Linked DNA regions of Homo sapiens. The protein of the gene in region 3 interacts with the protein of the main gene of each other region in a pairwise test. Each region holds a gene or a part of one and is shown on either strand. Other genes may lie near its edges. The genes, in order: TMEM222, CTXN3 and CLRN1.

Evidence for each region.
Region 1: the proteins of CLRN1 (region 3) and TMEM222 interact in binary tests that used the Homo sapiens proteins (3 or more experiments, as listed by UniProt).
Region 2: the proteins of CLRN1 (region 3) and CTXN3 interact in binary tests that used the Homo sapiens proteins (3 or more experiments, as listed by UniProt).

Annotation. Positions count from the first base shown.
Region 1 is NC_000001.11:27,325,085-27,328,736, forward strand, and holds part of TMEM222 (transmembrane protein 222), read left to right. Parts: exon of another isoform or gene 1-1,441; intron 1,442-3,652.
Region 2 is NC_000005.10:127,655,561-127,659,212, reverse strand, and holds the end of CTXN3 (cortexin-3), read right to left. Parts: intron 1,791-3,652; 5' UTR 1,692-1,790; coding exon 1,446-1,691; 3' UTR 583-1,445; downstream 1-582.
Region 3 is NC_000003.12:150,969,814-150,974,187, forward strand, and holds the start of CLRN1 (clarin-1), read right to left. Parts: upstream 2,915-4,374; 5' UTR 2,896-2,914; coding exon 2,643-2,895; intron 1-2,642. UniProt on the Homo sapiens protein: May have a role in the excitatory ribbon synapse junctions between hair cells and cochlear ganglion cells and presumably also in analogous synapses within the retina.

The DNA.
Region 1 (3,652 bases), on a different chromosome or scaffold from region 3:
TGCAGAGCTAGGCATAGATGTGGCGCAAGTAACTGTCACCTGTCTTTGGAGGAGAGATCAGAGGAGGAAATGGAACCCAAAGATCTGTCTACCCCCTCAGAGATGTTGGTAATTCTGCATGAAAAACCAGTTTAGTGCTCGCCTCAGCAGCACATATACTAAAATTGGAACGATACAGAGAAGATTAGCATGGCCCCTGCGCAAGGATGACATGCAGATTCGTGAAGCGTTCCATATTTTTGTCTCCCTGGACTTCGAGCAGGAGATGGCCACTACCACATCCTCCTCCCTGGAGAAGAGCTACAAGCTGCCGGATGGCCAGGTCATCACCATCAGCAACAAGCGGTTCCAGTGTCCGGAGGCGCTGTTCCAGCCTTCCTTCCTGGGTATGGAATCTTGCGGCATCCACGAGACCACGTTCAACTCCATCATGAAGTGTGACGTAGACATCCGCAAAGACCTGTACACCAACATAGGGCTATCCAGAGGCACCACCATGTACCCGGGCATCACCGACAGGATGCAGAAGGAGATTAACGCCCTGGCATCCAGCACCATGAAGATCAAGCTCATTGTGCCCCCAGAGTGCAAGTACTCTGTGTGGATCAGCGGCTCCATCCTGGCCTCACTGTCCACCTTCCAGCAGATGTGGATTAGCAAGCAGGAGTATGACGAGTCAGGCCCCTGTATCGTCCACCGCAAATGCTTCTAAATGGACTGCGAGCCGATGCGTAGCATTTGCTGCATGGGTTAATTCAGAAGTATAAATTGGCCCTGGCAAATGCATATACCTCATGCTAGCCTCACGAAAATGGAATAAGCCTTCGAAAAGAAATTGTCGTTGAAGCTTGTATCTAATATCAGCACTGGATTGTAGAACTTGTTGCTGATTTTGACCTTGTATTCAAGTTAACTGTTCCCCTTGGTATTTGTTTAATACCCTGTACATATCTTTGCTTTCAACCCTTAGTACATGTGGCTTGGTCACTGCGTGGCAAGGTAAGAATGTGCTTGTGGAAGACAAGTGCGACTTGGTGAGTCTGCATGGCCAGCAGTCTCCGATCTTTGCAGGGTATTAATATGTCATGGCTGAGTGTTCTGGGATTTCTCTAGAGGCTGACAAGGGCTCCTGAACCAGTTGTTTCTGTCCTGCTGGTCTGTCAGGGTTGGAAAGGCCAAGCCATAGGACCCAGTTTCCTTTCTTAGCTGATGTTTTCCTGCCAGAACACTGTGGGCTGTGACTTGCTTTGAGTTGGAAGCAGTTTGCATTTACACCTGTAAATGTATTCATCCTTTTAATTTATGTAAGGTTTTTTTTTGTATGCAATTCTCGATTCTTTAAGGAGATGAGAACAGATTTTGGTTTTCTACTGTTATGTGAGAACATTAGGCCCCAGCGGCATGTCATTGTGTAAGGAAAAATAAAAGTGCTGCTGTAACCAAAAAAAAGGGAAAAAAAAGAAACTAGTTTAATAGCTGCTGCTACTAATAAAAACAGCTAAGATTAGATGCTTACTCTGTCCTAAACATTGTATGTTCACTCACTCAATCCTAATGTCAACCTATGAAAGTAGATACTGTTGTCACCATTTTATAGATGAGGAAGTAAGGCTTAGAAGCCAGTGTGGTGCTCTTTTGCTGAGTTAGCCTACCTTCCCAGATTGAGCTCCAGGATGAGTGAGTCATTTATTCATTTATTGTATCTTTATAAAGCACCTATTATGTACTAGGTCCTGAATAGAAGGTAGTCCACAAAGCGGCTCTGGAGCTGCCTTCCTGGAGCTTCCAGGCTGACAAACCACTTTGAGGGTTTCTTCTCTGGGGCTTCCAGCCTTTACTCTGATTTCCATCCACTGCTGCCAGCACAGCTGTGGCGTGTGGAATCCTGGTTGGACCCAGACTTCCTCCCAAGCAGATGAAAGGATTAGGGGGCAGAGATGGGGGTGGAGGGCAGTCCTGAGATCAGGATGAGCTACTTTCCCATAATCCTGAATGTCCATCCTGTGGCCTGTGGATCTTCTGCAACTTATTCTATGTTAGTGCAGTCAGTCAGATAGTGCTTATGTATTGAACACCTCGAGATGACAACATTGAGCAGCTGCCAAGCGGAAGGCAGAGTCCTAGGCACTGTGTAAATGGATAAGTCTATCCATTTAATCCTCACAATAGCTCCTCATTAAGGTAATTTTTACTATCCACAGAGAGATGGGAATTAGTAACTTGCCCAGAACAAAGGCAAGCCTCAACCCAGATGATATCTGAGCATGACTTCACTGTTGGCGTTTGTTTGTTGTTTTTAATTTTTATTTATTTATTTATTTAGAGACAGAGTCTTGCTCTGTCACCCAGGCTGGAATGCAGTGGCGTGATCTCAGCTCACTGCATCCTCCGCCTCCGGGGTTCAAGTGATTCTCGTGCCTCAGCCTCTCGAGTAGCTGGGATTACAGGCACATGCCACCATGCCCATCTAATTTTTGTATTTTTAGTATAGACAGGGTTTCGCCATGTTTCCCAGGCTGGTCTCGAACTCCTGACCTCAAGTCATCCACCGGCCTCTGCCTCCCAAAGTGCTGGGATTACAGGCGTGAGCCACTGAGCCCAGCCTTGACTCACTGCAGCCTCAACTTCCTGGGCCCAGCCTTGGCTCACTACAGCCTCAACTTCCTTGGATCAAGTGATCCTCCAGCTAATTTTTAGATTTTTTTAGATACAGGGTCTCACTGTGTTGCCCAGGCTGGTCTCAAATTCCTGGGCTCAAGCAATCCAACTGCCTTGGCCTTCCAAAGTGCTATGATTACAGGCGTGAGCCACAGCACCCAGCCCCAGACTCTACTCTTAAATGCAGGATGTTCATTCATTATTTAGTCAACAAATATTTAGTGAGTTGCAGCTATATACAGGCACTGCCGTAGTAAACAAGAAAAAATCCTGTCTCTCTTGGAGCTTATGTTCTAGTGGAGAGACAGCATATAAATAACCAAGATAATTTTGGATGGTAGTAGATACTATGAGGGAAGTAAAGCATTGTAGTGGGATCTGGGATTGGGTGGCTGTGCTGGAAGACACCGTTCAGGCAAGACCTCCGAAGGTGACAGTGAGGCTGAGGCCTAATCAGTGAGGAGTCAGCTGTGCCATGCTCTCTGGGAAGAGTGTTCCAGACGGAGGAGAGGGCAGATACAGAGAAAGCATGGGGTGGGAGGATTTGGCGTGTTTGAGGCCACAAGCAGGCAGTGTAGCTAGAGAGGGGACTGAGATGAAGTTCAAGGGATAATTAGCACCACAGTGTTGGAAGAAGTTCGAAGTGTATTATAAGTGTAGTAGGAAGCCATTAATAGGTGTTGAACAGGGGAATGATGGAATCTGAGTTCAATTCTCAAAAGACCACTCTGGCCCTACCATTGTCTCAAGCGCTCAAGCTGTAGACCTGGAAGACCCCCATCCTGTCAGTCGTAAACTCTCCAGTCTTCATTTGAAAGATCTTTTGAATCCATGTGTTTCTCACCACCCTGCCCCTGATCCTCTAGTCAGGACCTCCATCATCTCTTGCCAGTGGTACAGCAGTAGCCCCTGAGCTGGCCTCTCCCCCTTTCGTTCTTCCAGGCACATGTACCACTTTCTTGCTCTGCAGTGTTGTTTTCTGCCTGTTGATGTT
Region 2 (3,652 bases), on a different chromosome or scaffold from region 3:
AAAAGTATTCAACATTAAGAACTGGCCCTGTGTGTTTTCTGTCTTTCTAGTGCTAGCAATTCCAGGCTCAAAGCAGGAGCTCCATAAATACATGAGTGGGTTTGAATAGACTCTAACAAAAATACAAAAAAAAATTAATGAGGACACACATGACACAGTACATTTGAAAGAAAAAGAAAATCTTATAATTAATAGGTTAAAGAAGTGTGCTTTTTTTAATCAAAAAAGGTAATGACTAGCTGAGGAGAAAACTAGAAGACATAGATTATAAATACAGCCTAACGGGGTTGGTTTAGGCTGAGTTATCTGCAGGGTTGGTTTAGACACAAGCTTTTCCTTCCAACAAAAGTTGGAATAAGAGGTATTCACATCTCCCTTTTTGGTGGTCTTAAAAACTATCGGTTTTGTCTGTGCAGGACAATTTATAGGAGCTCTTCTTGAAATGGGAGAGGGATGAATTAGATGAGCTTTCATGCTGTTAACTCTTTTCTCCTCTCTTGGAAAAATGTTAAGCCTCAGCACTTAATACCAGGTAGCACCCTCAGTGCATTAGTTCTGGTGAAATAAGAGAGGAAGCATTTCTGTTTCTTGAAAAGTTTTATTTGGTGACTATATACAATCATAAATACACATTCCTCTGAAGACTATAAAAGTCTTCTCCTCTAAACAATTAACTTTTCATTGAAAAAAAACTTTAAGCTGCACTTGCAACCTATTTTTTAAATCATTTGTGTAAAGTGTAAATTCAAGTAATGTATAGCTACCTCTACACATGTTATTAATATGAATACATATAATGTAGTTGGCTTGGTAAATAGTTTTTAAAACTTTGTAGCCTTTGAATTAAGTTTTACTTGAAAAACAAAACGCTATTCTCACTCACATTTACCAAGGACAGAATCATCTCTTTTAAGCTTTTCCATTGCTTCCCAAAGCTCCCTGCTTTGGGAGAAAACAAGAAACTACTTTGGGTCCATTCAGCACAATCTTCCTCATTCTGCTCAGGACCCAGATAGGTGCCCATGAAATAAAACAAATATAGACATAATTAGAGCAAGGAAATCTCTTCCTGGCCTTGTCACCAGATTCATATGAGATCCTTTCTAGTCTTTTATTCTTTAGTCAGATCAGGTGGTGTTTTGTTTGATGGCAAATCTATGTCAGTATTAACGCTCTTGGTTTCACAATCACACAATTTTAAGAGTACTCATTCATTGAGCAAACATAAAAATTTAAACCTTCTTATGTTGGATTAGTTATATAAGTGTCCATTTCCAACATCCTCAAATGTCTTTAACCCAACTGCATATTTATGGAATAATGGATTATGGTCCTGGGACCAAATATTGTTTAAATTTGATTTGTTGAGAACACTAAATAAAGGGAATCCTCACCAAGACACAAAGCACTTCATCTCCTCAGGAGGAGATCCCACACCATCCCTCCTAAGCAAGGGCATGGTCGAACTGCCCTTTCTCCAGGCCTTCAAGTCCATCAGCCCAGGTAGAGGTTGGCATGCTTCGATATGGATCCAAAAGAATCCGGAAGCACCGGACAATGAGAATGCCCAAGAAAATAAACAACAGAATCACAAAAACAAATGTCATTTTCTGCTCCAGGGACATGCTAGAATCTGCTGATTCGTTCCCAAGGGGCACTAGGGATGAGGGGATGGGCTGTCCTCCATCCATGGTCCAGGGAAGCCAGAGCACAGGATATCCTGGTTTTCTTTTCTTCCATCATCAATCTGCGGAGGTCATGGTGGCTGCACTCTGGAGAGGCTGAGTTATCTGCAGGGAAAAAGGAAGGGAAAGGAATACCTATAAAATAGCAGCCTTATTTTTTTAGGTTCACAGTCATATTTTTCAGAGAGAAAAAGAAATCTGTAAACCAGCTTTCTTTTTCACCAGAGATGCTCAATTCTGTATAATTATCGGGAAAGATATTTTACTCTTGCATGAAATTACCAGATTGTTCTCAGAAGAGCCACCTGGGGCCAGGAGGGATGGGCAGGGAATACGACTATAATATAGAAGATGAGAAATGTGCACAGTAATATTGACCTCAGGGTGTACTGTCAACTTGACATCTGAACCCAGCCTCCCCTGCCAAGTCTCCTCCTGCTCTGCTCCACTAATATTACTCTCACATTGTTCTTACGATAGCGCCATTGAGGGAGCCTCAGCTATGTGTCAGCACAGTGGCTAAACTTGAAACATGTTAGCCACTTTACTGCAAGCTTCACGAAAGCAGGGATCTCTTTAGCCCCAGTGCAAGGAAACTGAGGCTAGAAAAGGTGCTTAAAATAGAAACCTTCTCCAGGAGCATTGGGTTCTGGGCTCCGGGCTCCACTCTACTGCAAAACGGGTGTGGGACCTTGGAGAGGTCACTAAGCTGTAAAAATGCAAGTAGCAATGCCTGCATCTTTCATGGTGCTGTAATAAGGATGAAGAGCTGTGAAAACCCTTTGAAAAGTATACAAAAAAGAAAAACAAACAAAGCCAAGTGTTGCTTCACCTAAGACACAACTAAGGGAGCTATGCTGCTTCTCCTTTCCTTTCTACTGCCTGAGCCAAGGGAGAACGGAGGTATCTCAGTCTCCCAAACTATCAAGTTACTGCTGCTTTTTCTTTTTTCCTCAGAAAACAAAGACCAGGTTCAATACTTGACCCTGGGAAGCACCTAGAGAATTAAGCCAAGAGAAAGGAATTGATCGATGCATATTTTCAAAAGGACAGTTTTCCTTAGAGTGGCTTCCTACCATTTAAGACTATTCAGTAGAGAGGAAGAGAAGGAAAAGGACAAGCTAACACTATTTTAATTTTACTGGTGGAAAAACTTAGATATGTAGATATTACTGTATAAATATACAAGTGTATATTACCGTATAAATATACAAGTATATACATGACAAGTATACACAGAGGTCGTTAAAAGCTTCAGATACTGAACGAAATCTACTTAAATCACATCGTAAATAAAAGTATATACATTAGACACTACTACTATATAGAAAATTAAATGATATTTATTATGAATTTATTTATAATAAAAATTACAAAGCACAGTAATTAGCTACGGAAATTAACACGGACACAAAATAAATTTTGCTCAATGAAAATAACCAAATAAAAATAGAATATGTGACCTAAAGCATCAATACAATGTTCCTTCAGTTAACTTATAATCATTGCCTTCAAGTACAGCATTAGTAATCATAGCATAACAGTTTGCATTATATTGACACTTCAAAGTTTGTAAAATTACAGTTTAAAAAACAATTTATAAGGGGGATCCCAGCCAGGATCTGGGAGGAAGGAGTTACCAGTCGGGTAATGCATCATTTTTGCAGCTCTATCACTTTGAATTTTTTTAAAGGCTATAACAGTTGCAAAACTCATTTATAATTCATGTTTGTTTGGAAGTAAGATTGGGATAAAAATTTGACCGCATTTTAAAAAAATAAGCTCTTTAGGAATTTAGAGGATATTAATGCACTGGGTTTTGTTTTGGTTTGCTTGTTTCTAAGCACCCTCCTAGCCTTGGGTATTAATTCCTTGTGGGCCAGGAAGGGAGGGGCAGGAAGGGAGGCCAGAGCCTCCAATGCAGGTCTCCTCAGCACATCAGACCAGGGCCATCTGTGTCCACCAAA
Region 3 (4,374 bases):
TACAAAAAAAAAATTAGCTGGGCATGGTGGTGCACGCCTGTAGTCCCAGCTACTTGGGAGGCTGAGGCAGGAGAATCGCTTGAACCCAGGAGGGGTAGTTGCAGTGAGCCGAAAAAACTGGCCACGAAGTGATTGTTACCTTGATAAGTTACCTTTTCCATTCCTCTTACACTGGTAAGATTCTGTGAATTCAAATGTTTGCTTAATAACTTTCTAAAGGCACAATAAGAAAGAAGACATTCTGGGAAATGAATTGTGCACTAATTGTAAGTTGAGCTCTGGAAGAAACAGAAAAGAGTCATCCACCTGAGCTCTCTGGAGGTCCCTGCTTTTTGCTCCAAGGAAGCCACTACTGAGAAAGTAAGGTTAGATCTTTTATTCATTTATATGAACAGGGCTTATACATTTCTATCAGGAAGAATATCAGAGGATTCTCATCCAAGCAAACGTTGATGAAACATCATTGACAGGGTAATGACATTCTGAATGGAAAAAACGTGAACCACAAAGCTGCGTTGCAATGGGAGTGTAAACTTTGAGGGTGCAATGTGTCCCAAAGGCATGTTGATTAGAAAGTTTTAACACTGAGAGGGGTGTTTATTTAAATGAATATTATCCTCTTTGGGGAGTCCATTGGATCTATTTATTTTGGTTTTCCCAACTCTGTCTCATGCTGCATTGAAAAAGATACTTTTATGCTTAGGAAAAAAAAAAAAGCTCTACTGTAAGTATTCTTAGCTGGGCCTCACCAAAATGAATGAGATTTTTAACATGTATAGTATATACAGTACACTTAATATGTATAGTCTATTGTATATTGATGGAGCTGTCACTGCAGAATGAACAAGTAAATGGAAGATTTTCTTCACTAGGCTAGGGGGAGAATGTCAGGGGTATCTGGGAGCTAATGAAATTCTGTGAGATAAGTGAGGGTACTGTTTAAACCCCACCAGTTCTGCAAGTCCTCACAGAAAGCAAAAGGAGGGGCACCCAATTAGAACAACTTCATCCTTAGACAGGACAAGCATAGGACACAACCACAAAAATCATTCGCTAAACCCCAGAAGAATGTGGCTGTGTAAGGATTAAATGAGACAAAGCATATAAAGTGCTTAGTATGTAGTAAGTGTTCAGAAAACATCTTATTATTGTTTTGAAACATGTCCTATGGCATGAGTAAAGTTTATCTCCATTTCACTGTAGAAAATGTAAAGGCTCCAGAAAATTCACCAGTACCTTCTCCGCTTTTGTCTAAATTCATCTGTGAGAAGCTTTACTCACGCTTTGGCTGCCGGTGACTCACGGTTAAATCATCTCTCTCAACTTTTTTCCTTTTCGGTTTTTTAATACAGTTGCATATCACATGACATTCTGCTTTGTTTTCTTCCTTCCCCTTCCCCAGGAAAACTAAGCAACTCTAACAGCCCCATTACCTTAATGAATAAAAGCCATTCAGTGAAAAGAACTGGTATCCACTTCATCAATTAAAAAGCTAACAACCAATTCTTGGAAATTTTCTGGAGCCCTATGAAAATTCATATCACTTAGTAACCTATGTGAGCTGAAGGTTGGTGTCCAATGACTGCTAAGAAGATATAAGGAATGTTGCAGAAATATAAATAGACCAGCACTGAAATTTAATTAGGCACTGCATATGTTAATAATAAATTCAATTAATTTAGCCTTCTACCTATACTAGAAAGAAAAAAAAAACCTGGGCAAAATAATAATTCATTTTAAATGCTTCAGTTGGTAACCTCCTTTCCTGAAGAGTGATTTATGCAGTAATTTACTGACTGTGTCTTCATAAGGTTGTTCCAAACCAGCCCTTCTGAAATAATAATAACTTCTGAATGTGTGTTGTAAGAGATATAACAAATGACTTCCTATTAATTTTCATTTAATGAGTTGCCTATTCACATGGTAATTTTTAAAAATTCTCTTCTTAAGATAAACAGGTTATAAATACTGTGGATTACACTTCCATTTCACAAAAATCACAACAAGAAAATCTCTCTCATATTCTCTACATGATTTGCAGGTCAATCAGTTTAAAATGTTCTATACTAAATAGGCATCCATTTCTTTCCCAGTTAGCACAGCAGATCATTTTAAATTTCTATAGCCAAATGATTCCAAATTAGTTAAAAATGAAAACTGAATATTTAGCAGCAGGAAAGGTCTTAGCAGGAATAATGGGAGGGAGTGGGGAGCAGGAAACAAAATCATGAGAAAGGTGGCAACCTGGTTAAATACGGAGCCCATGACCTTGGTTCTTTTTATAAAGAACAAAAAGCATAAAGATCATTCTTTACAGCTTTCCTATTTCCCCAAGTTTACTTTTTTAAAAAGACTCCATAATTTTTTACATAAATATTAATACTTAAGCATCTTAATTGCCAATATTTCCAAAAACCTTAATTATGTAACAATGAATTAACTCTATATTATAATAAAAAGCAAGTATAAAATAATAAAAACTAGGAAGAAGAAATTGCTCAGAGTCATAGGTTTTTCATATGGTTCACACCGATTTAAAAAGTCCTGCAGTAAACACGGCAAAATTCTCAAATATAATTCCTCGCAACACTGGGAAGAGTCTGCCTAAAGCATTAAATAACTCAAATGCAATTGCTACTTACATGAGAACCGAAAGGGCCTTGCTCCCAACCCACACTGCCTCACACCCTCTCCGTGGAAAAGCCCGTACTGCATTTCACCCATAAACTTGTCCAGCTCCTGCCCTGAGGCATTGACGAGCAGAGCTCCCGTTTTGCAGAGGACAGTGGCTTTGATCCACAACGGTGTCCCCAAGGCTGTCACAACTCCGAGGGCACATGCAAAACTGAACACTCCGGCCATGCAAAAAATGATTTTCTTCTGTTGGCTTGGCATGATGAGAAACGGCTTCTGTGAGGGCGAGGTTCAAAAACAAGACCTTTGTGAGCAATGGGAAGGGACTGCCTCTTTGACTGCATTTATTACGGAAGCTGAACGGACAGCTCCCAGCTGAAAAGGCAACTTCACCATCGACGGTTCTCGCCAGGTTAAATGTCAGTAGATGAAGGCCTCATCATCACTCATACTTGGCTTTTCTCCTTTTCTGCTGCTTCTTCTCCCTAATTGGAAATCTTTGGACTAAGAATCTGTAAAACAAGTCTTTCAAACTGCCTTCAAGTATCTCCTCTGTGTCACTTGGTAACAAAGGTCGAAGATAACAGATGGAGTCCTCAGTGTAACTTGATAAATGTTTCCCTTCCTCAGCCTTTTGTCTGATTGGGTGAGTTGAAACTTTCAGAAACAGGCTTGAATCTGATGGTACATTTTCAGCAACTTGAGAAGTTCACTTATCGATGTTTTTATTTTTGTTTTTTGTTTGTTATTGTTTTTGGTGGTGGGGGAAGGAGCTTTAGCAGAGGTAGGGAGAACATATGTACCTGTATTGATAGTTGATGTCAAAAATTTTTAATTACAGCAGGATAAAAATATTAAACAGAATTTGGTCCTACACGAATATTAAGTGCTCTGGATCAACCATGGGTCCTTGTCCTTCCAACTTAATTTCTCCCAGATCCATGGTTTATACCTAATGTATCAATAGAGAATTTGATTCAAATTTTTCTTGGCATACAGAAATATGAAAATGCAGGAGCAGATATCTAGATTTCTAAATGCTTTCCTTTAACAGGCTTAGCTGCTTTAGGATAATAGCAAGGGAATGTGTTTCTGGGTCCAAGGAATACCAGGATCTGTAAAGATAAGGGCATATTGATGGAAAGAGGGATGGTGGTCAGATAGGTGACTCTATGGATTCATCATAAAAATGCACAGGTCTCAGCAAAGGTAATCTGTTTGGGAGACTAGAGACAGTTATGAGCAAAGATTAAGCAGCAGGTAGGTCTGGTTAAACGGTCAAGACCTGGAAACTAAAGTTCAGAATTCAGTAACAGCTTTTTAACTTTGCATTTCCAATGAGATTCCTCCTTCTACAGACACAGGACTGTGTGTGTGTGTGTGTGTGTGTGTGTGTGTGTGTGTGTGTGTGTGAAGTGTCTAGTGAATGTTTATTATATGCCATGTTATTGTCCTGAGCTCTGACCTACAAAGTTAATGTTTAGTAAGAACTTATGTCTGGCAACTTGTGAAGTATTCTACCTAAATTATCATATGTAATTCTCATAATTAGCATATAAAGTAATGAAGAAGAGGAAGAAGAAGAGGAGGGAGGAGGAGAAGAAGGAGGAGGAGGAGGAGAAAGGAAGAAGGAAGAAGAATAAGAAAGAAGAAAGAAGAAGAAAAAGCAATTATTCGTATCTTATATATAAGGGAATTGAGGCTCAGAGAGTTTAAGCAACTTGCTGAAGAGAGTAGTGG